Linked DNA regions of Homo sapiens. The gene in region 4 interacts genetically with the main gene of each other region. Each region holds a gene or a part of one and is shown on either strand. Other genes may lie near its edges.

Evidence for each region.
Region 1: changes in KRAS (region 4) and WDR36 are lethal when combined (synthetic lethality), as found in Homo sapiens cells (2 studies listed by BioGRID, with this or other methods).
Region 2: changes in KRAS (region 4) and ACACA are lethal when combined (synthetic lethality), as found in Homo sapiens cells (2 studies listed by BioGRID, with this or other methods).
Region 3: changes in KRAS (region 4) and PRPF4 are lethal when combined (synthetic lethality), as found in Homo sapiens cells (2 studies listed by BioGRID, with this or other methods).
Region 5: changes in KRAS (region 4) and NAPA impair growth when combined (synthetic growth defect), as found in Homo sapiens cells (2 studies listed by BioGRID, with this or other methods).
Region 6: changes in KRAS (region 4) and ERCC2 are lethal when combined (synthetic lethality), as found in Homo sapiens cells (2 studies listed by BioGRID, with this or other methods).
Region 7: changes in KRAS (region 4) and MIS18A are lethal when combined (synthetic lethality), as found in Homo sapiens cells (2 studies listed by BioGRID, with this or other methods).

The regions. Positions count from the first base shown.
Region 1 is NC_000005.10:111,122,978-111,127,396, forward strand, and holds part of WDR36 (WD repeat-containing protein 36), read left to right. Parts: intron 1-827; coding exon 828-947; intron 948-1,130; coding exon 1,131-1,212; intron 1,213-2,630; coding exon 2,631-2,818; intron 2,819-3,756; coding exon 3,757-3,906; 3' UTR 3,907-4,419. UniProt on the Homo sapiens protein: Part of the small subunit (SSU) processome, first precursor of the small eukaryotic ribosomal subunit.
Region 2 is NC_000017.11:37,259,711-37,264,129, reverse strand, and holds part of ACACA (acetyl-CoA carboxylase 1), read left to right. Parts: intron 1-235; coding exon 236-445; intron 446-4,419. UniProt on the Homo sapiens protein: Cytosolic enzyme that catalyzes the carboxylation of acetyl-CoA to malonyl-CoA, the first and rate-limiting step of de novo fatty acid biosynthesis.
Region 3 is NC_000009.12:113,277,890-113,282,308, reverse strand, and holds part of PRPF4 (U4/U6 small nuclear ribonucleoprotein Prp4), read right to left. Parts: intron 3,365-4,419; coding exon 3,178-3,364; intron 1-3,177. UniProt on the Homo sapiens protein: Plays a role in pre-mRNA splicing as component of the U4/U6-U5 tri-snRNP complex that is involved in spliceosome assembly, and as component of the precatalytic spliceosome (spliceosome B complex).
Region 4 is NC_000012.12:25,205,236-25,209,654, reverse strand, and holds the end of KRAS (GTPase KRas), read left to right. Parts: 3' UTR 1-4,409; downstream 4,410-4,419. UniProt on the Homo sapiens protein: Ras proteins bind GDP/GTP and possess intrinsic GTPase activity. Plays an important role in the regulation of cell proliferation.
Region 5 is NC_000019.10:47,486,495-47,491,340, reverse strand, and holds the end of NAPA (alpha-soluble NSF attachment protein), read left to right. Parts: intron 1-484; coding exon 485-553; intron 554-1,579; coding exon 1,580-1,630; intron 1,631-2,951; coding exon 2,952-3,053; 3' UTR 3,054-3,704; downstream 3,705-4,846. UniProt on the Homo sapiens protein: Required for vesicular transport between the endoplasmic reticulum and the Golgi apparatus. Together with GNA12 promotes CDH5 localization to plasma membrane.
Region 6 is NC_000019.10:45,359,655-45,364,073, forward strand, and holds part of ERCC2 (general transcription and DNA repair factor IIH helicase subunit XPD), read right to left. Parts: coding exon 4,332-4,419; intron 4,258-4,331; coding exon 4,089-4,257; intron 1,989-4,088; coding exon 1,870-1,988; intron 1-1,869. UniProt on the Homo sapiens protein: ATP-dependent 5'-3' DNA helicase. Component of the general transcription and DNA repair factor IIH (TFIIH) core complex, not absolutely essential for minimal transcription in vitro.
Region 7 is NC_000021.9:32,269,050-32,273,468, reverse strand, and holds part of MIS18A (protein Mis18-alpha), read left to right. Parts: intron 1-2,939; coding exon 2,940-3,062; intron 3,063-3,665; coding exon 3,666-3,762; intron 3,763-4,351; coding exon 4,352-4,419. UniProt on the Homo sapiens protein: Required for recruitment of CENPA to centromeres and normal chromosome segregation during mitosis.

The DNA.
Region 1 (4,419 bases), on a different chromosome or scaffold from region 4:
ACGTGCCTGTAATCCCGGCTGCTCAGGAGGCTGAGGCAGGAGAATTGCTTGAACCCGGGAGGCGGAGGTTGCAGTGAGCTGAGATCGCACCACTTCACTCCAGCCTAGGCAATGGAGTGAAATTCCATCTCAAAAAAAAAAATGTTCCTGAGATACTGATATGTAGCAGTGTACTTACCAAAACAAAATTCTTTCAATGGAAATTTCAGTAGAGTTTTTGCTAATATAATTTTACTAGCATTTGAAATACTTATAAACCAGCAATCATGTTTTCTTGAATTTTAAAAGCACAAGGTACTAAAGAAAAAATTCCAGCAAAATAGAAAAATTAGAGCTGTACTTTGAAAGGAAATTATCAAATTACTTATAATGTCAGTCTGCTTCTGGCTCCAAAGTTCCTTTGGAGAAAAGTAATTTAAGAAACTCTTTTGTATTAAGCATTTATGTAAATTTTGCTTTCCATCCTGTTTTGTGAAAGAGTTTGTACTCAATACAAAAGGAAGTTTAAAATTACTTAATTGTTATATCTTCATGTAAATATATTCATATTTCAGGAAAATGAGCTGTGTTTGTCTTAGAACTTCCCCTGTGCCCTGTCACTTTTTTTCTGCCTTATCGGCAAGGGTGCTAGAGATCTGCATTGGGAAGCCCAAGTTAAGGATAGCTGTGGTATTGGTCAGAAGAGATCATATTTTAACATTCTTATGTGAAAGAGTTTCATTCCTCTTTTACTTTTTGGTATTTGTTTTAAAATTGATTTGAAATTAAATATGAGAAACTGTTGGCAAGATAATTCCTATTTTTCTTTCTCATTTTCTCTTAATCAGAAAAAGAATAAACCAAAGGAACCACCCAAAGTACCCAAATCAGCACCATTTTTCATTCCAACAATTCCTGGCCTTGTACCCAGATATGCTGCACCTGAACAAAATAATGATCCCCAGCAGGTAAAAAACAAATTAGAAGATTCTAAGTATATCGGTGTATGTTTGTATGTGTTTTCTGCACTTCTTTACCAAGACCTAGTTTTACAGATATAGGGTAAATTAATGATAGCTTTTAATTACAAACTATACATTTTTGGGTGATACTTGAATTATTTGAATAATGTGTATTTGTTTTTGTTTAAGTCTAAAGTGGTAAATCTTGGAGTTTTGGCTCAAAAATCAGATTTCTGCTTGAAACTTGAAGAAGGACTGGTAAATAATAAGTGTAAGTTGAATTATAAGATATTTTAACTAATATATTTAGCTTATTTTACTGTATATGAGGAGAAATTGAAGGAAATATCAGCGTTCTCAGTAGTTAAGATAGTAAAAATCAAAAAGATTGAAATTTTGGTTTTAATTTGACGTAATTTTAGCATTTATATTAAATAAGCCCACTAAACTCAAATGGTATTGATATTATAAAAATCTGTTGAAGATTTTTCATATATCTAACTTACTTTTTGCTATTGGAGATGGACACAGTTATTGACTATATTTATAATAAGGAGATCCTTCTTGTTGTGAATTAAATGTAAAAGTTTTGTTTGTCGTTTTTGTAGCAAGTAATTTGCAAGTCTTTTGTTTTTATTTATAATTTGTAATTCAGCGGACTGCTTAGGTGATTTCATATATTCCTAAATTATTTTATTAAAAAGGAAATGTTTTAATCTGTCTGTTGTGTTCATATATTTAAATTTCGAAGGCTACAGTCTGTAGCTAATAGTGATTAGCCATAAGAACTGTAATCATTTAAAAAACTGTAGTCACTCTCCTAATAATTTTAACTTGTCCTCTTGTTTTGATTCAAATGCTTTTGTTTTCATACCGAGATTACTTGAGTCCACATTAGCAAAAGTCAGAGAATGATACTGATGAGCCCTTGTAAATGACTTGTTATGTTTATGGGGAGACAAAGAAATAAAAACACTATTGTTTACTATATACTGAAGGATCTAAAAGTGATTAGACTTTTGTCATTGGTGATACTCTTTTTCAGAAAGCTAAAGCATAGTCATTGCAGTTCTCAAATGACTCATAAAAATAGCTGTAAGTGTACTGAGTGTGTTTTCCTAGGGTGCATATGAAACAATTCTTCTAGGGAAAAGAAGTAGGTTTGGGCTGGGTAAGAATAAGGGATGGGGTCTTCCCCCTCTGATTTTATATATTCTGTACTGTTAGTAATATAGTTCCTAATGATTATGTACTTTTATAACTTTATAACAATAGAAAAGAAAAATTATTTTACCTCATCAGATTCCCAATGCTAACCACTATTAATACTTTTGTATGTATCGTTATAGGCTTCTTAATTAGGATTTACTCTGAGAGAAGATATATGAGCATTTTAAAATTCTAACGTGCCTGTTGCAAGGCATTAGATTTTCTTTATTAACAGGAAAAAGGTTTAAATTACAGAAAAAAAATGTGTTTTGAGTACTTTCTCTTATATTGGTGTCATCGTTTGTACTGATTTTCAATTATTTTGGGTTTCATTCTACTACATAATATGAAAAAATTAACCCACAGGAAGAATTTCCTGTACCATTTAAATATATCCTATTTGGGGTATAAAAGGAAAACTGTAATTTTCTAAGTTAAATGATTATAATCAAGTCATAACTGGATTAAAATTTAATGCAGATGACACTGCTCTCAACCTTCTGAAAGAATCAGGCCCATCAGGAATTGAAACAGAGCTGCGAAGCTTGTCTCCTGATTGTGGTGGGTCCATAGAAGTTATGCAGAGCTTCTTGAAAATGATTGGGATGATGCTGGACAGAAAGCGTGATTTTGAGTTAGCCCAGGCATACCTTGCATTGTTTCTAAAGGTAAGTCTAATGTAAGACAGTACTGCCCAGCTTGTCTTCTTCTGGGGCAGTGCTATCTAACAGAACTTTCTGCAAAGATGGGTATGCTGTATATCCATCCTTTCCAGTATCATAGCCACTTGCCACATGTAGCTATTGAGTTCTTGAAATGTAAATAGTGTGATCAAGAAACTGGATTTTTAATTTTATAGAATTTTAATTAATTTAAATTTAAATAACCGCATGTGGCTAGTGACTACCACATTGGACAGCTAGACAGTGCAGCTTGGGAGTCTTGTTTTGTTTTTTTACTCAACTGCACAATAATTTTGACTTTACCCCCTGACATTTTTATGCTATCTGCTTGATCCAATGTGCTGAACCATTAACTTTTCTTTTTTTAGTGGTTAGTTACATTTTGGAAGTTTTTTGTGATTATGAATAGAAAGTTGGGTTTGTTTGTTTTTTTTTCTACTACTGAAATCAAAATGTTCACTTCTATCATTATTAAAGGAGTTTTGATCATTTGACAATAAGACTGTTACTTTTATGATTAATATAGTGGTGAACTCATGTTTTGAGGGTCTACTTTAGTGGTATAATGTGTTGAAGGAGGTAGATGATGCCGATTTTTGGTGATAATAGATTTGATTCTTTATCCCATTTATACCTAAAATGAGTTCACTTGATCTGATTATTTAAAAGTATCAGGACTGTCCTTAGGTGGAGAGGAGTGATGACCACTTTAATTCTACCAAGGAAGTCACAGTATCATAAAGGACCTTATAATAAAAAAAGTTTGATAGAGGAGGGGAAAATGGGAGATAGTAATAAACCAGCGCTTAAGAAAACAAATATTCACCTAGTGTCTTTTGTGGTTCCTTGGTAGAAAAATTGAATCCAGATTAGGTAAAATTTTAATTTTCTTAAATGTTCAATCATCATATTTTTCTTTGCAGTTACACCTTAAAATGCTTCCTTCAGAGCCAGTACTCCTAGAAGAAATAACAAATTTGTCATCCCAGGTGGAAGAAAACTGGACCCATTTGCAATCACTCTTCAATCAAAGCATGTGTATTTTAAATTATCTCAAAAGTGCTTTGTTGTAAAAATAAATTTGTGACTAAACAAAGACTTTCATATTAAATGGGTTCAATTGAACTCATTTCTTATTTTCCAAGTGTCAATGTGAAAAGAAAATAAATGCTAGCACTACTGACTAGTCAGTATATCTCCACTTTAAATGCTAAATACTTTCTTGAAATAAAATCGCACCTCCCGGCCAGGCATGATGGATAATGCCTGTAATTCCAGCACTTTCAGAGGCCAAAGCGGGAGGATTGCTTGAAGCCAGGAATTTGAGCCCAGCCTGGGCAACATAGCAAGCAAGATCCCATCTCTACAAAAAGTTAAAAAAATAAATTACACCTGCCTTTTGTTTTGAAGACTTAAAGAATCTGCTCAAATGATTTATTTTCTGAGTCTCTTCACATTAACTTTTATATGATTTTTAAAAAATTATTACCTGCTTATATTTTTTGAGTATCTGTTTCATATAAAGAGATGCTGCATGTTCACTGTGAAGTATTGCTGAATTAAATTGAAAATGTCAGATAAAACTG
Region 2 (4,419 bases), on a different chromosome or scaffold from region 4:
TGTTCGTATGTTTTCATATTTATCAATTAATATTGGTTATGTAAGAATGCAGCATCTTAAAGATATTAAAGATGACAGCATGGACTGTATTTTATTCAGTTTTGTATTTCTGCTGATTAACATGGTTCCTGACACTTCTGGACATCTGCTTGTTGAAATCAAAGTAGCTTATCAAGATAGATAAAAAGTTTAAAATTTAAGAATTGGTTTTTTTTTTCCCCCTTTTCTAATACAGGTTCAAGCTGAAGTTCCTGGATCTCCCATATTTGTGATGAGACTAGCCAAACAATCTCGTCATCTGGAGGTGCAGATCTTAGCGGACCAATATGGCAATGCTATCTCTTTGTTTGGTCGTGATTGCTCTGTACAACGCAGGCATCAGAAGATTATTGAAGAAGCACCTGCTACTATTGCTACTCCAGCAGTATTTGAACACATGGAACAGGTACATATATTAAAAGGCTTACTTTATGTTTTCTTACATAGAACATTTTTCATTCAGTTCATGTACCAATCTGAGAACAATGGCATTTTAAGCAACGATTCTGAATAATTAATAAAATTATATCCTTTTCTTAGAGAAAAAAAATTCTACTGTTCTCCCACTAAGAGAATTGTCAAGGAACATGTCAAGCTTCTAAAAGTAGTTAACGCTTTCTAAAAAAAATCAGCGTACCATTTCAGGATACAGGGATAAAGAAGAGAAATGTTTTGGAATTTTTAATCTTATGATTGATTTTTTTAAGAGGCTCATAATCAGGTAGTTTTATTTGCTGGGTTGAGTATCATCAAGTCTTCAGCTGAATTTAATCAACTCTATTATCGTTTTTGGAAAGTCCTCTAAATATCTTCAGAGTTCACACATTCTATCTTTTTGTATAGAAAGTAGTTTCTCAAAGTCATGAGCGATGCCTTCGGAATAACTATAGTTTAGAGGCCTGAACATAGTCTTTTCTGGAGTCCTAACCCAGTCTCTACATCAAAATAGATTCTTCAAAATATATTTCATGTGTGTTAGAGGTCTATTTCCTATGTTGTGTATATATTAGGATGTACTCTTGAACTGCTGTAATAAAGATGCCTTCAAAATACAGTGGCTTGGCCGGGCATGGTGGCTCTTGCCTGTAATCCTAGCACTTTGGGAGGCTAAGGCGGACAGATCACTTGAGCCCTGGAATTCGAGACCGGCCTGGGCAATATGGTGAAACCCTATCTCTACTAAAAATACAAAAATTAGCTGAGTGTCATGGCACACGTCTGTACTCTCAGCTGCTTGGGAGGCTGAGGTGGGAGGATCACTTGACACTGGGAGGTCAAAGCTGCAGTGAGCCTTGATCATGCTACTGCACTCCAACCTGGGTGACAGAGCAAGACCCCATCTCAAAACAAATAAATAAATAAGCAAAATACGGTGGCTTAAACAAGGTGTAAGTTTCTATTTCTCTTTCATCATAGTTCAGAGATGAGCTGTTACCAGAAACAGGTTTATTGCTCACCTGTTGCCTGTTTTTGTAAATAAAATTTTGTTGGAACACAATGATGCTTATTTATTTATGTGTTATTTATGGCTGCTTTATCACTACAATGGTAGAATTGAATAGTTGTGACAGAGGCTATATGGCCCACAAAATTGAAAATAATTACTATCTGGCTCTTTACCAAAAAAGTTTGCCAAACTTTGCTCTTGGACATTGTCATCTTCATGATTAAGCTAACTCACACAAGATTATGTTCACATTGTGGCCTGTGGGAGGAAGAGACAGGGGATGTGGAGGGCAAGCATATGGAAGCATGATCTTGAAGTCACATACATCACTTCTGCTCACATTCCACTGGACAAAATTCAGTTACACAATTATACCTAGCACAAAGGATGTTAGGAATTGTGATCACTAACTGGGTGACCATGTGCTCAGCAAAAATTTCGATTTTATTCCTAAAATGATGAAGTAGAGAAAAGTCACTGGAGGGCATTTCATAATCTGTGCCTCAGTCTGTTCCTCTGGCTACCTATTATCCCTTTATCCTTTTTCCTACTTTCAGAGCACACATAGCCTTTGTCCAAGGAAGACAACCTGAAGCCCCATCCAGTTACTAGTAACTGGATGGGTTATTACTGGAGGTGATTCCGGATCTCTATATGATGTATATTCTTCTCCATTAGATATGTATTGTGGCTTTTCATGGGCCAGTGACTCAAAATACAAGTTATTTACCCAGTATTATATCCCCTGCCTTCACCATACACCCATATACAATGATGGAATAGGAACAGGATAACTCTCATTTGGAAAAATGAAAAATACATAGCAATCGTTGGTCCATAGCAGTTATCAAATCCTCCTTTTTAGGTAGGAATTGCAATGATTCCCTGCTATATAATAGAATACTACCTCAGTTAGACCTGGCTGTCCCTGGTTCTGCTACTGCACACTCCAGAGAAGTGCAATAAGGGAGTAAATCCCTTGTTCATTGTCCTTCAAGACACCTGACATTGTTTTCTGGGAAGTTCTTCCTCATTCAGTTTTCTCTGTGAGTTGGGCTTTGGAGACTATGCCTTCTTTGGCAGAACTTTCACAACCCACTTCCTGCTGGTGCAGGATTGAGGGCACAAATATCCCAATCATCAGTCGCAGGCTTTTGAAGGCCAGGTTTGTGGTTTGTTTAGAAATACAATTCCTTCAAATACTTAACTAAGCTTCTGGGCTATTTGCTTGCAATCAGCTTTGGGTTGGATTAATCATACTCATAGATTTCTTCTAGATATAGAAACTTTTCTTCTATTATTTACTGGCTTCTGTGCTTAGCCTATCTCTCTTGCCTTGATTTAATATTGGCTATCTTGGGGCCAGCTGAAACTAAAGCAGCACGTTTGATCTTTGACACTGAGTTGCTTCAGGGTGATAATCTCATTTTCTGTTTGGGGGGATACAAAAGAAGTTGGCTTTTTCGACACTCTGACCCTTTCAGACCATCTTTTTTAAGGTTTAGTTGGTGTGTGGTCAGTATCCCAAGTTATTGTAGGAAACAGTTTACCAAATGTTGTGTTATCCCAACAAGGAGATTATCACCTTTCCAGCCTGCAGTATCTGTTTCTCTGCTACCCACTACCCTTTTGCTAAGCTAGCATCTCATATTTTAATATTTTTAAACAGCAACATTCTACCTGCACTTAATAATTCCTGTATCGATTAGGATACAGGTTAAACTGCTATAACAAAAAGGTCCAAAAAACACAGCGGACCCCCCCAAAAATAGAAGTTTATTTTTCTCTCCCATCCTAGTCTGAGGTGAGCTTTTCAGGGCTGGTGGAAGTGTTTTATTCCACGAGACCATCTTGGGATTCAGGTTCATTCTTTCTTTTCTTTTTCTTTCTTTTCTTTTCCTTTCTTTTCTTGGTGTTCTTAGTGTGTTCTCATTTGCATGATTGAAGTTGGCTTATACTATCATGACTATGTTCCAATGAATAAGAAGGAAAAAGCCAGGAATAGAGAATGAGACATTTCCTTTTCAAAATATGACTTAGGGCTGGGTGCTGTGGCTCACGCCTATAATCCCAGCACTTTAGGAGGCTGAGGTGGGCGGATCACCTGAGATCAAGAGTTCGAGACCAGCCTGGCCAACATGATGAAAACCCATCTCTACTAAAGATATAAAAATTAGCCTGACATGGTGGCATGTGCCTGTGATCCCAGCTACTCAGGAGGCTGAGGTAGGAGAATCACTTGAATCCGAGAGGCGGAGGTTACAGTGAGCCGAGATTGCGCCACTGTGCTCCATCCTGGGTGGGTGACAAAGCGAGACTCCATCTCCAAAAAAAAAAAAAAAAAAAATATATATATATATATATATATATATATATATATATATATATATATATGACTTGGGAGTTATGCATATCACTTACCAATGCTGGTGTCCTGTTTGTCAAAACTTAGCCACTAACCAGGCCAGGCATGGTGGCTCACGCCTGTAATCCCAGCACTTTGGTAGGCCAAGGCGAGTAGATCACTTGAGGTCAGGAGTTTGAGACCAGGCTGGCCAACATGGGGAAACCCCATCTCTACCAAAAATACAAAAATTAGCCAGGCATGGTGGCGCATGCCTGTAATCTCAGCTACTTGGGGGGCTGAGGCAGGAGAATCACTTGAACCCGGGAGGCAGAGTTTGCAGTGAGCCACGAGATTGTGCCACTGGACTCCAGCCCAGGAGACAGAGTGAGACTCTGTCTCAAAAAAAAAAAAAAAAATCTAGTCTCTAACTAGTTAGCTATGTTTCTAGGAAGAAGAGGAGCATATTGGAAATACTGGAAACTGGACAAGAGTCTGTCCCCATGTTTTTTTGTCTGCATGCATTTATGTCTGGTGGGGTGAGGTTGCTTTTGATGCAAAGTGAAAAATGCTCTTTTCTCCCGATTTT
Region 3 (4,419 bases), on a different chromosome or scaffold from region 4:
TAGAGAGAAGGGCTTGCTATGTTGCCCAGGCAAGTCTTGAACTTCTGGGCTCAAGTGATCCTCCTGCCTCAGCCTCCCAAAGTGCTGGGATTACGGGCATGAGCCACTATACCCGGCCCTCCAGGAACCTTCTTTAAGAGTCAAGTGGGGATGGCTAAACTCCCAGTGTGGTTTCTCCCACTCAGTCTTCTCTATTTGGAAATTTCCAAAATTCAACTATAAGCAATTACTCTATACAGTTTAGAGTCAATGAGCCCCTACACTGCTACCACTTGGTCTGTGAAGACTGCCAACTTTCACTCAGTGCCACAATGTACTGGATACTGACTCAGGTGCTAACTATACAGTGATGACTAGGAATCAGTTCTTGATTTCAAGTAGCTTAGTCCTGGGGAAACAACAGAGAGTACTGGCAAACTATAATCCATTATATTACCTATCACTATAGCAGTAAGCACAGAGGGCTAGAGGGGACTTTGTAACGGGCATCTAACTAAGCTTAGAGGATCAGGGAAGGCTTCATTAAAAAAAGGTAATATGTAAATTGAGTCCTCAGTTAATCAGGTCAAGGGGGTCAAGAATGAGAAAATGTCAGGCAGAGGGTTAAACAAATAAGGCCTGGAGGTAAGAAAAACATGTTGAGCTTGCAGTCACAAATAATTCAATATGGCTGGAGCGTAGAACATAGAAGAGGACTGGTGAAGAATAGGGCTGCAAATGCAAGGAGGAGCCAGGTCACAAAGAATTGCTAATGCCACGCTCAGGAGGATTTACAGATGAGAAAGATCCCTGAAACAGTACAAAGAATGGATTAAAAGGGAAGAATAATGGCAGGGAAATCAGACAGTACTGTTGTAGTGACGCTCTGAGTCACAACCGTGGACTGAAATTCAGATAGTAGCAGTAGTGACTCAAAGGATTCATTTAAGGAACATAATAATGAATAAGATAGACTTTGCTGGTGGAAAAAACAAACTAAACAATAATAAAAAAGTATACCCTTTGAAAAGGCTAATAAAATAACATACTATGACAGAGAACAGAGGGGTTAGGTGTGACGAAAGGCTTCTTTGAATAGGTGGCATCTATGCTGAAACGAAAGAATAAGAAGTTTGACAGGGATCCAGGTTAATAAAAAATGAAGAAGAAAGGCCGGGCGCGGTAGCTCACATCTGTAATCCCAGCACTTTGGGAGGCCCAGGCAGGCGGATCACTTGAGGAGGTGTTGAGAGGATCACTTGAGGAGGTGTTCAACACCTGGCCAACGTGTTGAAACCCCGTCTCTACTAAAAATACAGAAATTAGCCAGGCATGGTGGCACATGCCTGTAGTCCCAGCTACTTGGGAGGCTGAGGCAGGAGAATGGCTTGTACCTGGGAGGTGGAGGTTGCAGTGAGCTGAGATTGCACCACCGCACTCCACCCTGGGTGACAGAGCGAGACTCCGTTTCAAAGAAAAAAAAAGGAAGAAAAAAAGCCTCTAAAAGACAAGACAGAAGAATAAAAGTAGACCAATTATGTGGAAAGACATAAAAAGAACTAGCATATTCCATAAGGACCAATGTGGCTATTCTAGTAAATTGGGGAAGGGAGACATGAGTAAGGCTGAAGACCTTACAGACCATGGTAAGAGTTTTTTACTCCAAGTATGAGAAGACAATCTAGGATTTTAAGCAAGCAATTAACACAACATGTTTGGGGCTATCACAACAGTGCAGATTTGAAAGCAGTAAAGATAGAGCAAAGAAGATAGCTGGAGTTGTATCTCGCAAGTAGAACAGACCAGATTTTGCTAATGGATTATAAAGGAGGCTAGGCAGATTTTCAACTAAGAATTGTATGAGTATAGGAGAGAGGTGGGGAAATATTTCAATTCAGATGTCTCAAGTTTGAAGTACCTGTGGGATACCTAAGCTGCAGTGAGAGATTTGGGAATCATCAGAACACACAGTGAATGATGCCATGGGAGTAGAGCTGATCACCAAGGGCAAGTAGAGAAAAAGGCAGCCTGTAAAGGGCAGGCAGAGAAAAAGAGGTTTAGAAGGTAAGTGAGAAGAATTAGCTAGTGAGAGAAGAGGAAAATCAAGAGGATTTGTTATTAGGAGAGTGAAGGAAAGGGAGTAGTTCAAGGAGGGAGTATTTCAAGGAGGAGTGGCTGGCAGTATACTAGGGCTATTCTTAGTAAAGGTGGATTGGTGATCTTAACAAAGAGCAATTTTAATGTGGTAGGGGTTGGTCAGTTTGCAGCAGGTTGAAGAGTAAATAAGGGTAAGGACCTCAAGGGAGTAATAGAAAAAACCCTTCCAACAAGCTGGATGATGAAGGGTAGATGAGACAGTGGACAGAGAGACCAGAGGGGCTCCTCATAATTGTGTGTGACTAGACCACAACTAAGACTTCGCAACCTGCAAATAACAAGAGGGCATTATCTGAGGATGGTACCCCTCTTCAATAAAATCCAAGAAACATTTATCATTGTTCTATGTCATTGATATGGAATGCATTTGATGTCTCAATTTTCAAAGCCCAACAACAAATGTTTATCCAATTCAAAACTCGCACTGGGGAGGGGAGGCAAGGGAGCATGTTAGCACCCTCTTCCAAGTCTATAAAGAAAAACGGGCCAGGCACGAAGGCTCACGCTTGTAATCCCAGCACTTTGGGAGGCCAAGGTGGGTAAATCATTTGAGGTTAGGAGTTCAAGACCAGCCTGGCCAACATGGTGAAACCCTGTCTCTACTAAAAATACAAAAATATAAAAAATAACTAAAAATACAAAAAAGAAAAATGTGGTGGCAGGTGCCTGTAATCCCAGCCACTTGGGAGGCTGAGGCAGGAAAATCGCTTGAACCCGGGAGGCGGAGGCTGCAGTGAGCCGAGATCACGACGCTGCACTCAAGCCTGGGTGACAGAGCAAGACTCTGTCTCAAAACACAAAACAAAACAAAACAAAACAAAACAAAACAAAACAAAAACGAACAAACACAAAAAAGAAACATTAATAGTGCGGTAAAAATTGGCCTAAGACAGATTATGGGCTAACTCATATAAACACAGTAAGATATTGTTAACATGATTTGAGACATTCTATTAAAGTTCAACTAAATGATCAACCAAAATTTGGAGTAGAACCCTGTGATTATAATAAAGAAAAAAAGTAAATATTTAGAAAGGCAACCTTTCTCTTCTTTCAGCAGGACCCTCTCCAAAAAGTGTGATGGGTTCCCCCAAGGCTCTAAGGCAAGCTTTGACCTCTGAGTCATCTGTGGAAACATTGATCTGCCGGGCTCGCTTCCTTCTCTCAAACTCAGCCAATACTTCTGCCTGTCGCTCGCTGATATGCTCTTCAATTTCAAACACTTCTCCTATTAAAAAGAAAACAGGCAACATCAGCAGATCTTCTTCAAATAGAGAGAAATAATTTCTAGTAATTGCAGTCTGTGTATGCCCTGAGGGAAAAGTAACTGTCTATTACACATTTTATAGTTTACTGTTTTTCAGTTTATTAAATTATGCCAAACACATAAACCTAAATGACACAGCTTCAAAAGGCAAGAAAATGGTTCAAGCCACCTCTTGTTTCATTTATTAACTTTGTGCCTATATAAACACACACTTTGGCTGAGACCAGCAAGTAAGAGTACAGAACATCTTTTGCAAATGAGTTAACTAGGCTGTCTATCCAGAAGATGTAACAGAAACATTATTGTAACAACAGCCAAAGCTATTTATTCTCGAAAGGAGACCCAGTATAGGGATACTTAACAAATCATTAACTACTAAACTGCAAATAATTACCAGGAAAATGAGAGTTCCACAACTATAAGGATTTCTGGATAATCTAGCAATAGTTTTGAAACCCACACCAAAATACAAGTGTGATAAAAAATGAGAGGTACAGTGGTGACGTTATGTTTAAAAACAGTATTAAAAGTTTAAAAAGTCACTAGGCTACAGTGCATGTGTTTAGAAAATGTGTGGGAGGATCAATAAGAAACCTGACAGATGTCCCTACTGCAGAGGAGTCTTCATTTTATGCCCTTTGGCATTGTCTGAATTTCTTAGGACAAATATGCATAATTTTATTTTTAAAATATAGTAGACCTCTCATTACTGACATGGAAAGATATCCTCAATGGTATATAAATGAAAAATGGGGGTTATACAACAATTTACGTATTGTGTTTTCATTTATGGAAAAAATTACATACTTTTTAGCTGTATTAAAATTCTCAGAAAGATATACAATCAATTAATTTTAAAAATACAGGATTTTCTACTTCACACATTTATACATTGATCTTTTAAAAGAAAATAACTTTTTTTTTTGAGACAGGGTCTCGCTCTGTTGTTCAGGCTGGAGTGCAGTGGCACAGTCATGACTCACTGCAGCCTTGAACCCCCACCTCAGAACCCCAAT
Region 4 (4,419 bases):
TTATTTTAAAATGACAGTGGAAGTTTTTTTTTCCTCTAAGTGCCAGTATTCCCAGAGTTTTGGTTTTTGAACTAGCAATGCCTGTGAAAAAGAAACTGAATACCTAAGATTTCTGTCTTGGGGCTTTTGGTGCATGCAGTTGATTACTTCTTATTTTTCTTACCAATTGTGAATGTTGGTGTGAAACAAATTAATGAAGCTTTTGAATCATCCCTATTCTGTGTTTTATCTAGTCACATAAATGGATTAATTACTAATTTCAGTTGAGACCTTCTAATTGGTTTTTACTGAAACATTGAGGGAACACAAATTTATGGGCTTCCTGATGATGATTCTTCTAGGCATCATGTCCTATAGTTTGTCATCCCTGATGAATGTAAAGTTACACTGTTCACAAAGGTTTTGTCTCCTTTCCACTGCTATTAGTCATGGTCACTCTCCCCAAAATATTATATTTTTTCTATAAAAAGAAAAAAATGGAAAAAAATTACAAGGCAATGGAAACTATTATAAGGCCATTTCCTTTTCACATTAGATAAATTACTATAAAGACTCCTAATAGCTTTTCCTGTTAAGGCAGACCCAGTATGAAATGGGGATTATTATAGCAACCATTTTGGGGCTATATTTACATGCTACTAAATTTTTATAATAATTGAAAAGATTTTAACAAGTATAAAAAATTCTCATAGGAATTAAATGTAGTCTCCCTGTGTCAGACTGCTCTTTCATAGTATAACTTTAAATCTTTTCTTCAACTTGAGTCTTTGAAGATAGTTTTAATTCTGCTTGTGACATTAAAAGATTATTTGGGCCAGTTATAGCTTATTAGGTGTTGAAGAGACCAAGGTTGCAAGGCCAGGCCCTGTGTGAACCTTTGAGCTTTCATAGAGAGTTTCACAGCATGGACTGTGTCCCCACGGTCATCCAGTGTTGTCATGCATTGGTTAGTCAAAATGGGGAGGGACTAGGGCAGTTTGGATAGCTCAACAAGATACAATCTCACTCTGTGGTGGTCCTGCTGACAAATCAAGAGCATTGCTTTTGTTTCTTAAGAAAACAAACTCTTTTTTAAAAATTACTTTTAAATATTAACTCAAAAGTTGAGATTTTGGGGTGGTGGTGTGCCAAGACATTAATTTTTTTTTTAAACAATGAAGTGAAAAAGTTTTACAATCTCTAGGTTTGGCTAGTTCTCTTAACACTGGTTAAATTAACATTGCATAAACACTTTTCAAGTCTGATCCATATTTAATAATGCTTTAAAATAAAAATAAAAACAATCCTTTTGATAAATTTAAAATGTTACTTATTTTAAAATAAATGAAGTGAGATGGCATGGTGAGGTGAAAGTATCACTGGACTAGGAAGAAGGTGACTTAGGTTCTAGATAGGTGTCTTTTAGGACTCTGATTTTGAGGACATCACTTACTATCCATTTCTTCATGTTAAAAGAAGTCATCTCAAACTCTTAGTTTTTTTTTTTTACAACTATGTAATTTATATTCCATTTACATAAGGATACACTTATTTGTCAAGCTCAGCACAATCTGTAAATTTTTAACCTATGTTACACCATCTTCAGTGCCAGTCTTGGGCAAAATTGTGCAAGAGGTGAAGTTTATATTTGAATATCCATTCTCGTTTTAGGACTCTTCTTCCATATTAGTGTCATCTTGCCTCCCTACCTTCCACATGCCCCATGACTTGATGCAGTTTTAATACTTGTAATTCCCCTAACCATAAGATTTACTGCTGCTGTGGATATCTCCATGAAGTTTTCCCACTGAGTCACATCAGAAATGCCCTACATCTTATTTCCTCAGGGCTCAAGAGAATCTGACAGATACCATAAAGGGATTTGACCTAATCACTAATTTTCAGGTGGTGGCTGATGCTTTGAACATCTCTTTGCTGCCCAATCCATTAGCGACAGTAGGATTTTTCAAACCTGGTATGAATAGACAGAACCCTATCCAGTGGAAGGAGAATTTAATAAAGATAGTGCTGAAAGAATTCCTTAGGTAATCTATAACTAGGACTACTCCTGGTAACAGTAATACATTCCATTGTTTTAGTAACCAGAAATCTTCATGCAATGAAAAATACTTTAATTCATGAAGCTTACTTTTTTTTTTTGGTGTCAGAGTCTCGCTCTTGTCACCCAGGCTGGAATGCAGTGGCGCCATCTCAGCTCACTGCAACCTCCATCTCCCAGGTTCAAGCGATTCTCGTGCCTCGGCCTCCTGAGTAGCTGGGATTACAGGCGTGTGCCACTACACTCAACTAATTTTTGTATTTTTAGGAGAGACGGGGTTTCACCCTGTTGGCCAGGCTGGTCTCGAACTCCTGACCTCAAGTGATTCACCCACCTTGGCCTCATAAACCTGTTTTGCAGAACTCATTTATTCAGCAAATATTTATTGAGTGCCTACCAGATGCCAGTCACCACACAAGGCACTGGGTATATGGTATCCCCAAACAAGAGACATAATCCCGGTCCTTAGGTAGTGCTAGTGTGGTCTGTAATATCTTACTAAGGCCTTTGGTATACGACCCAGAGATAACACGATGCGTATTTTAGTTTTGCAAAGAAGGGGTTTGGTCTCTGTGCCAGCTCTATAATTGTTTTGCTACGATTCCACTGAAACTCTTCGATCAAGCTACTTTATGTAAATCACTTCATTGTTTTAAAGGAATAAACTTGATTATATTGTTTTTTTATTTGGCATAACTGTGATTCTTTTAGGACAATTACTGTACACATTAAGGTGTATGTCAGATATTCATATTGACCCAAATGTGTAATATTCCAGTTTTCTCTGCATAAGTAATTAAAATATACTTAAAAATTAATAGTTTTATCTGGGTACAAATAAACAGGTGCCTGAACTAGTTCACAGACAAGGAAACTTCTATGTAAAAATCACTATGATTTCTGAATTGCTATGTGAAACTACAGATCTTTGGAACACTGTTTAGGTAGGGTGTTAAGACTTACACAGTACCTCGTTTCTACACAGAGAAAGAAATGGCCATACTTCAGGAACTGCAGTGCTTATGAGGGGATATTTAGGCCTCTTGAATTTTTGATGTAGATGGGCATTTTTTTAAGGTAGTGGTTAATTACCTTTATGTGAACTTTGAATGGTTTAACAAAAGATTTGTTTTTGTAGAGATTTTAAAGGGGGAGAATTCTAGAAATAAATGTTACCTAATTATTACAGCCTTAAAGACAAAAATCCTTGTTGAAGTTTTTTTAAAAAAAGCTAAATTACATAGACTTAGGCATTAACATGTTTGTGGAAGAATATAGCAGACGTATATTGTATCATTTGAGTGAATGTTCCCAAGTAGGCATTCTAGGCTCTATTTAACTGAGTCACACTGCATAGGAATTTAGAACCTAACTTTTATAGGTTATCAAAACTGTTGTCACCATTGCACAATTTTGTCCTAATATATACATAGAAACTTTGTGGGGCATGTTAAGTTACAGTTTGCACAAGTTCATCTCATTTGTATTCCATTGATTTTTTTTTTCTTCTAAACATTTTTTCTTCAAACAGTATATAACTTTTTTTAGGGGATTTTTTTTTAGACAGCAAAAACTATCTGAAGATTTCCATTTGTCAAAAAGTAATGATTTCTTGATAATTGTGTAGTAATGTTTTTTAGAACCCAGCAGTTACCTTAAAGCTGAATTTATATTTAGTAACTTCTGTGTTAATACTGGATAGCATGAATTCTGCATTGAGAAACTGAATAGCTGTCATAAAATGAAACTTTCTTTCTAAAGAAAGATACTCACATGAGTTCTTGAAGAATAGTCATAACTAGATTAAGATCTGTGTTTTAGTTTAATAGTTTGAAGTGCCTGTTTGGGATAATGATAGGTAATTTAGATGAATTTAGGGGAAAAAAAAGTTATCTGCAGATATGTTGAGGGCCCATCTCTCCCCCCACACCCCCACAGAGCTAACTGGGTTACAGTGTTTTATCCGAAAGTTTCCAATTCCACTGTCTTGTGTTTTCATGTTGAAAATACTTTTGCATTTTTCCTTTGAGTGCCAATTTCTTACTAGTACTATTTCTTAATGTAACATGTTTACCTGGAATGTATTTTAACTATTTTTGTATAGTGTAAACTGAAACATGCACATTTTGTACATTGTGCTTTCTTTTGTGGGACATATGCAGTGTGATCCAGTTGTTTTCCATCATTTGGTTGCGCTGACCTAGGAATGTTGGTCATATCAAACATTAAAAATGACCACTCTTTTAATTGAAATTAACTTTTAAATGTTTATAGGAGTATGTGCTGTGAAGTGATCTAAAATTTGTAATATTTTTGTCATGAACTGTACTACTCCTAATTATTGTAATGTAATAAAAATAGTTACAGTGACTATGAGTGTG
Region 5 (4,846 bases), on a different chromosome or scaffold from region 4:
GGTGGTGGGCAAAAGCTTGGGCTTTGTCAGACCAGGTTCCCATTCCCACCCCATGTCTCACCGTGCCCTGGGCAGGTCACTGCCCCTCTCTGGATCTGTTTCCTCACTTTGAAAAGGGGGCTCACCGTCATTTGACCCTCTCAGGGTCCTCAAGAAGCACCAGCCCCAGGCCTGGCATGGAGGATGTGCTCATTTGTCCCCTGCCCCAGCTGAGCCAGGTGGGAGGAGGCAGTGGGTGCCTATCTGGGGAACCTTCCCCCTCCACCCACCTCTCCCTGCAGCCATCTCTGCAGCCAGGCTGGTGCTGAGCTCAGCTACGGGAAGGTACTGACAGACACAGAGCCAGGTGACACCTGAGGCTGGGGGAGGGGTGCAAGAGCTGACTCAATATCACCCGACATCCCCAAGTCCCCTCAGCTGCTAGGCCAGTAGCTCTGAGGACCCTCTTGTTACTAACTCATCTTCTCCCTTCCCTGCTGCCCAGCTGGCTGTCCAAAAGTATGAGGAGCTGTTCCCAGCTTTCTCTGATTCCCGGGAATGCAAGTTGATGAAAGTAAGTGCTGGGTGCTCCGGCCTCCCCCTTCCCGAACCTCAGACGGGGGTGGCTGGGGCTCCAGGTGGGACAATCGCCAAGACTTGTCCAGTAGTTCTCAGAGGGTGTCTTTGTTTTGTTTTGTTTTGTTTTGTTTTGTTTGGCCATTTGAGTCTCCATTTTCCAGATGAAGAAAGTACAACTCGGGGAGTGCTGGAGCTCAGGATGGCTAGGTGGACACACACACACACACTACACACACCACACCACACCACACACACCAAACATACACTACACACACCACACCACACACATCACACCACACCACACACACCAAACATACACTACACACACCACACCACACACATCACACCACACCACACACATCACACCACACGCTACACACACACCACCCCACACACCCCACACACACTACACACACACCACACACAGCAAACACATCACACACCACACATATCGCACACACACTACACACACACGACACACCCCTCACACAAAACACATTGCACAGTACACACACCACACGACACACCCCCCCACACACAAAACACACTGCACACACACCACACATGACACACCCCACACACACACATTGCACACACACTACACACACCACACACACCCCACACACACACCGAACACACCACACACGCAACTCAACACACACCAAACACCACACGTGCCCCTACACACCACACCCCAACACACACACCACACACACACACACCTCCACCACACACCACACCCAACACACACACCCCCCATACCCACACACACACACATTCTGTGTGATGTTCTATGTTGGTAAGGTTGCCCTGAGAGCAAGCCGTTTCTGATGAATAGGGCAGCAGGATCGCAACACGCCCGTACCCATCCCCAGTTTAACCCACACGGATTGACCCTCTGAGAGTCCTCAGGAAGCCCCAGCCCCAGGCCTGGCATACAGATAGCGTGTCCTTTCATCTAATCCAGGCCAGACCTCAGGTCAGCATAGGCCCCTGACCCCTCTCTGCCATTTGCTTGCAGAAATTGCTAGAGGCCCACGAGGAGCAGAATGTGGACAGCTACACCGAGTCGGTGAGTGGCCAGCATGGGGGGCCAGGCCCCTTCACGGGGATGGGTCTCCTAGGAAAGCTGCCCTTCTCAGACACGCTCTCCATGACATTCACCCATTTCATCTGGCCCCCAGCCCACTGTGAAGTTCTTTCTCCAGTCACCCCAGAAACCTTACAAGTAGCGCCAAGAGGCGCAGGGAGTGTTCTCCCCATTTTATAGATGGTGGCACTGAGGTTGGGGAGGTCAGGAGGCTCGGCCTTGGCCCCTCAGGGACAGAGCTGGTGTTCAGAGCCACATCTGTCTGCCTCTGAAGACCAGGGTTCCTTGAGTCCCCCAGGTGAGTGTGTGAGACTCACAGTGGGCGCCTTGGGCACCCAGGAGGCACAGACGGGGAGGGAAGGGGTGAGAAGGAGAGTGGAGCTGAGGACATGGGAGAGGTGCCAGCTTCCCTCTGCCTGGTGGAGCCGCCCACGCGGCTCTCTCTCCCTTCCCTTTCTCTGTTCCCAGCATTCCCGGGCTTAGTGGTGTCCGGCTCAGGTCCTGATTCACTCCTCTAATGGCACATGTCAAGCATTTCTCCCTAGGTGCCCCTTGGGAATGGAAGCCCCTAACTGAGGACAGTGAAAATGCCATCCTGTTCCTCCTGCCCCAGACAGTGGGTGGCAACTCAGCCAGGAGCTCAGGGAGGGGATGCCCAGCAGGCCGTGGCTTCTCTCCCCCGTGTCCCATGGCACTCAGGAGTGGCCTTTTCCATATCTCCAGGCCTCAGTTTCCCACCCATTCAGTGAGGATGCTGGACTTTTTTTTTTTTTTTTGAGACGGAGTCTCGCTCTGTCGCCCAGGCTGGAGTGCAGTGGCGTGATCTCGGCTCACTGCAAGCCCCGCCTCCCGGGTTCACGCCATTCTCCTGCCTCAGCCTCCCGAGTAGCTGGGACTACAGGCGCCCACCACCACGCCTGGCTAATTTTTTGTATTTTTAGTAGAGACGGGGTTTCACTGTTAGCCAGGATGGTCTCAATCTCCTGACCTCGTGATCCGCCCGCCTCAGCCTCCCAAAGTGCTGGTATTACAGGCGTGAGCTACTGCGCCCAGCCATGGACCTTTTTTTTTTTTTAAAGCTACAATATCTTTCTCCCCCAAGGGAAATGATGTGCCCAGCATAGTCAAGACAGACAAGAGGGAGCTCCCATGGCTGAGTTGGGGCCTCAAGCCCTCCCTCTACTCCTCCTCAGAGACCAGGGGTGACAGAGACAGATCTTGAAAACCTTGGGACAAGTGCCCTTGGGCTGCAGGGTTGGGAACGGGGGGAGCATGGCCAGCCTATCACCTGGTGTGCCCTCAGGTGAAGGAATACGACTCCATCTCCCGGCTGGACCAGTGGCTCACCACCATGCTGCTGCGCATCAAGAAGACCATCCAGGGCGATGAGGAGGACCTGCGCTAAGCCCCACCCAGCCCCCCAGTGCCCGTCTTCCTGTCCCATCTGCTCAGAGAGAGGTGGGGCCGAGACTTGCTGGAGAGCTTCCCTCCTTTCCCATCTGGGGAGTGCCGCGGGCCACAGTGGGCAGGTGGCACCGGGGGTCAGCATGCAGGGGCGCCAGAGGCCCAGGCTGCTGGCCGGACAGTCACCCTCTGTTCTCGCTACATCCCTTGCCCCCTGTCCATTTATTTAAGCCCCCATAGGTGCCCTTCACCCCCAAAACCAGCTGTACAGAATCTTTGATACAGACCTATTTGCTAGGGGTGCTGCCGGGGATTTGGGGTCAGCATCTGGCCCCCTATCTCCTGACCAGCTGAGTCATGAGGCCGGTTTCTCTCTCTCTCCCACTTTTGTCCCCCAGCCAAGCTCTAAAGCACATGTAGCCGCTGAGACCTGCTGTTTCTGCTGGGGGCAGGCTCCTCTTCCCCCAGCCCCGGGAGCCTCCCCCAGCTTCCTGCAGCCCCGACCTCTCAGGTTAGACCCTGGGCCCTGGAGCTTAGGGGATTCTCCCCACCCCAGCCCCACACCTGCTCCTTCCCTAATGCTTTGAGGTTTTCTTGGTTGGAAGCTGCAGCTGGCCCAAGAAAGAAAATAAAAAACAACACTTTTGCATGAGTCTCTCTTCCTCCTCACCTCTGCTACCCACTCTGCCCCTGGGCCAGTCACCAGTCCCTCTCACACTCCTGGTCCCCCAGACTCTGGGCGAGCTCTTGGGAGGTCAGGCGCATGCATCCTTGAAACACGTGTGGGCTGGGTCAGTTTCTAGGTGGGGGAGACCCAGGGACGGTGGGCCTGGGGAGGAGCTCTGGCTTGGGAGTCCCAGAGCGCCCATCTTGATCTTTCTCTGGGTTCTTGGGGTCCAGGGGCCTTGATTTCCTCAACTGGGATGCACGGTGGTGATGCCACCCCTCAGAGCCAGTGGGAGGGTCGAATGTGACGGTCCTCATGACTGCTTTGGATGAGAATGGGTGGAAGCCCACCGAATCTCCCATGTCCACATTTCTCTGGCAGGAAGGCTGAACGCCCCGGTGACAGTTGTTCCATCTGTCACAGGACGGGGGAGGAAGCGGCTTTGGTGGGCAGAGTCTGAGGCCCGAGTGGGTCTGGGGAGTGGGGGAGGAGATAGCAGGAGCCTTTGCCCAGGAAAGGTGGGCAGAAACCAGCTGCCTCCACCACACTCCACAATGTGCATGTTGGGGGCCCTGTCTGGTACACATGTGCTTTACCCTGCCCCGCGCAGGGCCCCTCGCTACAGAGGAGACAGCTGAAGGAGGCTCAGTGCCCAGGCATGATGGGAAAATGTCAGGAAGTGAGCAGGGGCAGTAATTGCACAGAGGAGGGGCTGCCTAGGAAACCAGGGTGGACTCCTGGGAGAGGGGCTCCAGCCCAGAAAGCCTAGAGAAGTGCAGGTGAGGTTCAAATTCCTTGACACCTGCCCTGCTCCTCTCTCCCCTGCAGCTTCTCCCACAGCTCCAGTCCACTGATAATGGCAGCAAAGACTTCTGAGACCTGAAATTGATTACCATGTCTGCCCCCATCATGGGTGCTGGCTGAAGGATAGTGTGAGAATCTGTTTCTGTCATCCATGACCTAAATCAGTGATGGTCCGCCCTGGCTATGCTTTAAAGTCATTAAAAGTATCCAGACTTGGGGCTGGGTGCTGTGGCTCATGCCTGTAATCGTAGCACTTTGGGAGGCCGAGGCAGGCGGATCACTTGAGGTCAAGAGTTCGAGAGCAGCCTAGCCAACATGGCAAA
Region 6 (4,419 bases), on a different chromosome or scaffold from region 4:
ACATCTCTCTCCAAACCATACCTTTCTCTCTCCCCATGGCCACATCCTGGCCAAGGCCCCTCCCCTCCTGCTCAGGTCCCTGCCTGCCACCCAGTCTCCTGCCTCTAGTCCCTGCCAGAAGAACTCTTTTTTTTTTTTTGAGACAGACTCTCATTTTCACCCAGGCTGGAGTGCAGCTGGTGTGATCTCGGCTCACTGCAACCTCCGCCTCCCGGGTTCAAGCAATTCTCCTGTCTCAGGCTCCTGAGTAGTTGGAACTATAGGTGCGTGCCACCACGTCCAGCTAATTTTTGTATTTTTAGTAGAGACGGGGTTTCACCATATTGGTCAGGCTGGTCTCGAACTCCTGACCTCAGGTGATCCACCCACCTCAGCCTCCCAAAGTGCTGGGATTACAGACATGAGCCACTATGCCAGGCCTATTTTTTTTCTTTTTTTTTTTTGAGACGGAGTCTTCGCTCTGTCGCCCAGGCTGGAGTGCAGTGGCACGATCTCGGCTCACTGCAAGCTCTGCCTCCTGGGTTCACGCCATTCTCCTGCCTCAGCCTCCTGAGCAGCTGGGACTACAGGCGCCCGCCACCACGCCCAGCTAACTTTTTTTGTATTTTTAGTAGAGACGGAGTTTCACCATGTTAGCCAGGATGGTCTTGATCTCCTGACCTCGAGATCCGCCCGCCTCGGCCTCCCAAAGTACTGGGATTACAGGCGTAAACCACCACGCCCGGCCTTTTTTTTTTTTTTGAGACGAAGTCTTGCTCTGTTGCCCAGGCTGGAGTGCAGTGCCACAATCTTGGCTCACTGTAACCTCTGCCTCCTGGGCTCAAGCAATTCTCCTGCCTCAGCCTCTCAAGTAGCTGGGATTACAGGAGCCCACCATCACACCTGGCAAATTGTTGTATTTTTAGTAGAGACAGGGTTTCACCATGTTGGTCAGGCTGGTCTCAAACTCCTGACCTCAAGTGATCTGCCCACCTCGGCCCCCCAAACTGCTGGGATTATGGGCGTGAGCCACCATGTCTGGCCCCAGCTAATTTTTGTATTTTTAGTAAAGATGGGGTTTCGCCATGTTCACCAGGCCAGTCTCGAACTCCTGACCTCAGGTCATCTGCCTGCCTAACCATTCCAAAGTGCTGGGATTACAGGCATGAGCCACTGCGTTCAGCACCCAGAAGAAATCTTTCCAAAGCACAACTCTGGGCCGGGCATGGTGGCTCACGCCTGTAATCCCAGCACTTTGGGAGGCCGAGGCCGGTGGATCATGAGGTCAGGAGATCGAGACCGTCCTGGCCAACATGGTGAAACCCCACCTCTACTAAAAATACAAAAATTAGCTGGGTATAGTGGCATGCGCCTGTAGTCCCAGATACTCGGGAGGCTGAGGCAGGAGAATTGCTTGAACCCAGGAGGCAGAGGCTGCAGTGAGCCAAGATCACACCACTGCACTCCAGCCTGGCAACAGAGCAAGACTCCGTCTCAAAAAAAAAAAAAAAAGCACAAATCTGACCTGGCACCTTGCTTGCTAGAATCTGCCATGGCTCCCCAGTGCCCTCAGGAGCACAAAGATCAACTCATTACCGTGCCCTCTAGTGTGAGCTGACCCCATAGAATTTCTCTGGCCTCCTCCCTTACCACTGCCCATGCCATCCTTCTCCACTCTGCAGCCCGAGGAAGTCTGTGAAAATGTAAATCTGAGCACAAGGCTTACTCAAGAACTATGTATGGCTCCCCACTGCCTTCAAAATAGGGCCCACACTTCCAAGCCAAACCCCACAAAGCCCTGTGTGTCCTGCCAACAACCCTCTAGACCCTGCTGGGACCCTGATTCCAGCTGCTAGGAGGCCCAGCAGGGACAGAAAAAGGTGAGCTTACCTTTGGCGTAGGTGCTGACAAGGGTGGCAAAGTTAGCAAGGAGGGTGAGCGGGGAGAAGTCAGCAAGGTCGGTGATCTCCAGAGTATGCAGCAGGGACCGGAGGCGTTCAGCACAGAATCTGGCGGGGAGGAGAGACGGGGTCGGGGGGCAGACGGAAGCATGAGCAGGACCAGCAGCCCTGCCTCCGCCATCACGACGGTCACGTGCCTGTCTCCCCAGCCAATGAGCACTCAGTGAGGGTGGGCACTGGGCCTGTTTTGGAAACTTGCACCCCCACGCTGTACACCTGCATGTCACAAATAGCCATTGCCGCATAATGGCACAGACAGAGCAATAATCAGACACTCCAGAGTCATGTGGTCACTTGTCACACCTGCTAGCACGACCTCCTAAGTGGGTTCTTTTTTTCTTTTTCTTTTTTTTCTTTGTTCAGATGGAGTCTTGCCCTGTCATCCAGGCTGGAGAGCACTGGTACCATCTCGACTCCGCCTCCTGGGTTCAAATGATTCTCCTGCCTCAGCCTCCCAAGTAGCTGGGATTACAGGTGCCTGCCACCACACTCAGCTAATTTTTGTACTTTTAGTAGAGACGGACTTTCACTATGTTGGCCAGGCTGGTCTTGAACTTCTGACCTCGTGATCCACCTGCCTCAGCCTCCCAAAGTGCTGGGATGACAGGTGTGAGCCACTGCACCTGGCCCTAAGTGGGTTCTGATCAAAACAAGAGACGCACAATCACACCCAGAACCCCCCAGTCATGGCATTAATCCCGCATGGCCACATGGTCACGCATTCACACCCAGAGCCTCTCCCACTGCCTCTCACGCACCTATGGGGACACACACGGTGTCGGAACCCCATGGGCTCACAGAGGAATGCAGTCAACACCCACATCCCACAGAGTCCCACGGATACCACGTCCACACACTCACGCATGTGCAGGGCCACTCGGCCACAACCACACACAGGCAGGGCCGAGGCAGGGTCATAGAGCAGCTGGCTTTGAAGCCAGGTGGGCAGTCACACTTGCAAACCTGCCTCCCGCACGTCAGCCCTCCCAGCCTGGCTCCTCTAACCCCAGGCGCCTACCCCGGCTGGTCGCTAGCTGAGGATGAGTCTGTCCCCTCCACTGGGCCATGGAGCCTCTACGGCTGTGTCCCCAGCATGAAGCAGGCACTTGGGGAATGTGTGTTGAGTGACTGAGATCCCCTCTTTGCCCTCACAAGTCTCCAATCCTGGGGAAGATGGGCAAACCCACATGGAAGGTGGCCTCACCCACAGAGGCAGGGCAGCCAGGGCCTTTGGAGCCCACAGGCATGGCTTCAAGCCCCAACTACCGGGCACAGTGCTGTGTGGCTCTGGGCAAAGGCTTCCCCTCTGGGAGTCCCAGTGTCCTCATTTGCAGGGTGGGGATGCTGTACTGGGGGTGCAACTGAGGTAAGGAACATAAAGGGCTTAGCTCCTCCTTAGTGCTCAGGGCAGGGTAGGTGATTGGCTTCGCTGCTCTCTCATTAACCCACCAAAGAACCCTGTGAAGTAAAGACCCGACTCCTTGGCCATTTTACAAAGGAGGAAACTGCAGTTCAAAGAAGACCCATGACTTACCCAAAGGAAAAGCCCCCTCGTATCCCTTGGTCATTCTCTGCCTGCCCTGTGCCTCAAGAGACTGACTCCCCCAAAATGCGCCCAGACTACTCCATGGGGACGCCCCTGCCCTCAGGTTTGGAAGATTAGAGGCATCGGTGGGAAGATACATGGGCCGGGGACACCTCCTCCAGCTCCCAGCCTGCGAGGCCCTGGTACTGGTTTCTGCTCCCAGCAGAAGCCCCTGTCCAGGCCCCCACCAGTTGGTTCTCAACACACTCCCTCCCTGCCGCTGTGGCCTGGCTTAGCTCCCAGCTCTCACCTCCCACCCTCCTTGGCTCCTCCCCCAGCCCGCCCCTCTGTAAATGGTGCTCCCACTCTCTCTTGGGTGGGGGAGATTCTCCAATCCAGCCAGGTGTTGCCTGCCAGGCCCCTGCCCGACGCACGGACCCAGGATCAGCTCCAACCTTGCTCCCGGACCTCCCAGGTCAGACCAGACAAGGTCCCACGTGCCTCGCCCAGCTCACTCACTCCTGATGCTGCAGTGGTGACCTGGGGCTACAGGCGTGGAGGACACGGCTCTGCATAACCGGGACCTGCCGGGCCCCCACCCCGCGCGCTGTCTGGGGCCGCACCTGAGGGGCTTGCGCTGGATGCACACGCGCTGGGCCAGGCCGCTCAGGAAGGCGGGCGGGCTCTCCTGCACCACATGCTGCACACGCAGCCGCCACTTCACGTACTCCAGCAGCCGCCTCAGGAAGCCCAGGAAATGCTCGGCCGTGCGGATGGAGCCAGGCACTGCCTCTGCGAGGAGACGCTATCAGCGGCGACGGGGAGGCGGGAAAGGGACTGGGGGGCAGCGGGGGGTCGGGGCTCACCCTGCAGCACTTCGTCGGGCAGCACGGGGTTGGCCAGGTGGGCGTCCGTCTCCCGGGCGGCGCTGGCCTCCCGCAGCCCCTCCACCAG
Region 7 (4,419 bases), on a different chromosome or scaffold from region 4:
CGTTTTTAATCCTAATGAGGTGACTGTGGCTGGGGGGCTTCTATGTAGCTTCAGGATTGGGGGCCAGAAGGACCAAGGCATGATTAGAGGGTTGGAAGTTTTGGCCCTACCCCAACCTCTTCTCCTACCTCCATCGAGGGCAGAGGGGCTAGAGATTATCAGCAATGGTGTAATTAATCATGCCTGTGTTATAAAACCTCCAAAAAACCCATGGGTTTTAGAGAACTTCCAGATTGGTGAATATGAGATGCCGGGAGGGTGGTGTACCTAGAAAGGTCTTGGAAGCTCTGTGTCCCCCTTCTGTAACCTTTGCCCTATGTATCTCTTCCATAAAAGTGAAAAAAAAAAAAAAAGAAAAAAAGTTTCTCCATTTAAGATAAATTAGTAATAGTACAGATGGTTTGTGGATGTGACAGAAATTGTGGTGCCGGCATGCAGGCCATAAAAATTTGGAAAACCCACCTCAGATCATTTCTCATTTGGTAGTTGAAGAAAGTTAGGCCCAGGGAGGCTAGAACTTTGCTAAGGTCACAGGACTAATTAGCAGTAAGAGCTAGGATGATGCTTGTTACCCTTCCTTACTGCCTTCGAAGTGCTCTTTCTTCTCCACTTTCTAGCTCTAGCTCTAGCCATTTTGATATCACCATCATTTTTGTCCTATTTGTGTACCAGGTACCAACTGTGCTATTACATACTAAATTTTTAAAATTAAATCAACTCAAAATTTTTATTTAAATTTGTCTTAAAAGGATTGTTTTTACTATCATAAATACATACTTGCCATAACTAGAAAGTAACTCTGAAGATAATTACAGTGAAAACAAATGTTATTAGTTCTAGCTGAGATGTTGTTGCCTGGCTGGTTCTCTGCCTGAGGTCTGTTCTGTTACTATTAAAAGATTTGCGACTATGAGACAAGTGTCAAAGACAGTCTAGCACCAAACCGAGACTTTCTTCTTTTTTCTAATCAGGATTGATAGAGAATTCACTCTCTTTGATCCAGAGTTATTAATACTGTTTGTATCACCTAAACCCATCGATTAGACTGCCTTCAGTTGTCTTGGACTTCACTAGGGTTGTGTGCTGCACACTCCCGTGTTGCTTTGGGATGCTTGTGAATTTTTTGATACCTGCCTGAGCCTTTCTGCTGATGGTCAGCAAGAGCACTGTGGGCTTTAGAAATATGTTGTGAAGGTGCCAGTGCTGTTTTCTCTGTTAAGTCTGACTTTGTCCTTTGTTGAGGATCTTAACAATCGGATTATTCCTTGTCTAACATCACCTTACGATTATTGGCACTGCCTTCTCAATGTTACTGTTCAATGAAAGGGGTGAATGCTGGCCAAATTCTTGCCAACTGTGAAAGCGGAAAGTTGCTGCCTTAATACTAGCTACCATCTCTTCATTGCTCCACAAGATGATTCTAGAAGTGTGAATGGGTTTGTTCCTATTTTTGGTGGTGTTTAGGTTGATTTTGATAACTCGGGATAAAACAGTCTTATTCATGGCTCAGTGGATTTGGGGAGTTCAAGCCTCTGGTTTCTCTGAGTGTCCTTTCTTGGCTGATGACATTAGATATTAGTTTGCAGTCTTGGTAATGGTGTGAGGCGGTCTTATAATGGTAATGAGGTTTGATATATAGCATGGAGGTTTACCTGTTCACTGTGAGTAATTTAAGTGGGATTTACCGACATGCTTTTTATTTCTCATATAAACATTTAAACAAGCTGGCTGGGTATGGTGACTCCTGCCAGTAATCTCACATTTGGGAGGCCAAGGTGGAGGATTGCTTGAGGCTAGGAGTTCGAGACCAGCCTGGGCAACATAGCGAGACTATTTCTACTATAAAACTAAAATATAGAAGCTTATAAAAGCCCGTAGACACTTAATATGTAATCAGTGGCATACTATCCAGCTAATCACATCATCAGTGAGAATTCATGACTTAATCAGATGGTGATCCATTTTGTTCTTTGTTCCATATGTTGCTGTAATAATTAACAGTGTCTCAGTATCTGTAAGTAAACAATGATGTAGTCTATAATCTGTGAGTCTTGGGTAGCTCCCTTTTGCTTGATAGCAGGAATGGATATTTAGTGATTACAAGTGTTTCACATACTGAGTAGGAGTTAGAATACTTTTGTAATAAAAATCGTTTGTGGTGTATGTTTTACTACTGTGATCACTACTAGATTTAAATCTCTAGTTATCATTTTGCTATGTGTTGGAATGGTAATTTTAGTATATTTATAGAATGGTAAATTTGGATGGGTCAGTTCAACAAGGCGTTTGGGAGACACTGGATTCTAAGCCAGGTTTTAAGGAGACATGAATAGGCTTTGGGGGAGGGTATATTCAAGTGTGTGGAACCTGAGTTGAGAGGTAACTAGAATGAAGAAACAATTACATGGGTTGTCATCTAACTTTAGAGACTTTTTTTTTATTAAGCCAAGCAGTATTACCTTCCACTAGAGCAGAGTTTGGTAAACTATGGCCCATGGGGCGGGCACCCATTTGTGAATACGAGTTTATTGGAACACAGGTTATTCAGTTAGTATTGTCTATAGGTGCTTCCGTTTTACAATGGCAGAGGTGAGTAGTGACAGACACCAGATGGCTGGCGAGGCTAAAATATTTATTCTCCACTTTGTTACATTAGTACCAGATGGAGGAATTTATATTCTAGAAAAACACCACCTCAATATTCTCTCTTGTCACTTTTTTGTATGTCCCTTGTCATTTGATACTTAAGGCATCGTGGCTGTCTTTACATTTTTATTGTAAATATCTTACTATCATTTTTTCCTATCCTTTATGTATGACCTAGTGTGGTCAGAATAGCATACTTGAGAAACTGAGGTGTTTATGGATTTTAACAGTGAGATTTTTATTATAATGAGTTGCTGCTTCGTTTCCTAAAGCAAGACATTTCTTTATTGCAGCGTCCTTGAGACTTTGTGCTGCGCGGGGTGCTCACTCAATCTTGGCTACGTGTACAGATGCACGCCCAAGAATCTTGATTACAAGAGAGACTTGTTTTGCCTCAGTGTTGAAGCCATTGAAAGGTAAGTTTGATATATAAATGTTTACCTCACAACTGGTGTTTCAGAAAGTTAAGGCACGGAATTGTCAGAACTAAATCAATACTGTTTGGTTAAATATATTTTCAAGTAATGATTTCTAACAAGCCAGTAATTTTTTTTTTTTTTGCTTTGACCTCCTTCTTTATTTGGTATTGGAAAAGTCAGACACTCTAAATTGTAGGAGAAAACACTGTGAGAAAATTTTTGGAATAAAAGTATATTCAGTTGTTTTTAAAAATTGAAAGTAGTTCAGTAGGATATTGCCCCCTGCCCCCAGCTTTTTATTTTTATTTATTTTAAAACTTATTTTTTTAAGATATGGGGTCTCACTCTGTCGCCCAGGCTGGAGTGCAGTGCTGTGGTCATAGCTTTCTGCATCCTTGAACTCCTGGGCTCCAGCGATCCTCCTGCCTCAGCCTCCCAAGTAGCTAAGACTACAGGCATATTGCCCGGGGTCTTGTGTTGCCCAGGCTGGTTTCAAACTCCTAGCCTCAGATGATCCTTCTGTCTCAGCCTCCTGAATAGCTGGGAACAAGTGCATGCCACCACACCCAGCTTGTATTTTAACCTTGTACCGTACTTCAGTTATGTTTTAGGGTCCTCTGAAAAGCAAATTGTGTCAGAAGATAAAGAGCTTTTTAATCTTGAAAGCAGAGTTGAAATAGAAAAGTCTCTAACACAGGTAATTTTATTCTGTACATTTTATATCTTTGTATGAACAGTTTGTCAGTGAAGAAGTGCTCCCCCACAAACGATAATTCTCATAACGTCATCTGTGTTGATTGCAGGAAGAGTGTGCTTATTTCATTTCAGTTGTTAGTAAAGTTGATTTTTGGGGAACTCAAAAGCTAAAGCTTAATCAACAAAATAATGAGGAAGACATGTCATGTCAAAATCAAAACTATATATTAAAACACTGCAAAGCTAGAAATACATCTTTGATTCAAATCAGTATTTTGTTTGATTCAATTCTTGTGGTATAAATAGCCTTGTTGTTGGATGTTAACATTTTCTCATTGCCAGATAGGTGAGATGGTGATGATTGTATAAAAGAGATGTAGATTATAGGTTGAGAACTACTGTTGATAGAATTATGCTTTATTTTTAAAAAATTTATGCCTCTAAATAGTTTTGTTAAACACTGAATATCTACCTTGTAATGTATGACATATCCAAAATTGCATTAAGTGTATATCTTAATTATATTTAACCATGTATAATTTTTAATTATATGTGTGTTTCTTTATTTTTTTATTTTTTAAATTCAATAGATGGAAGATGTCTTGAAAGCATTACAAATGAAGCTGTGGGAGGCCGAATCCAAATTGTCCTTTGCCAC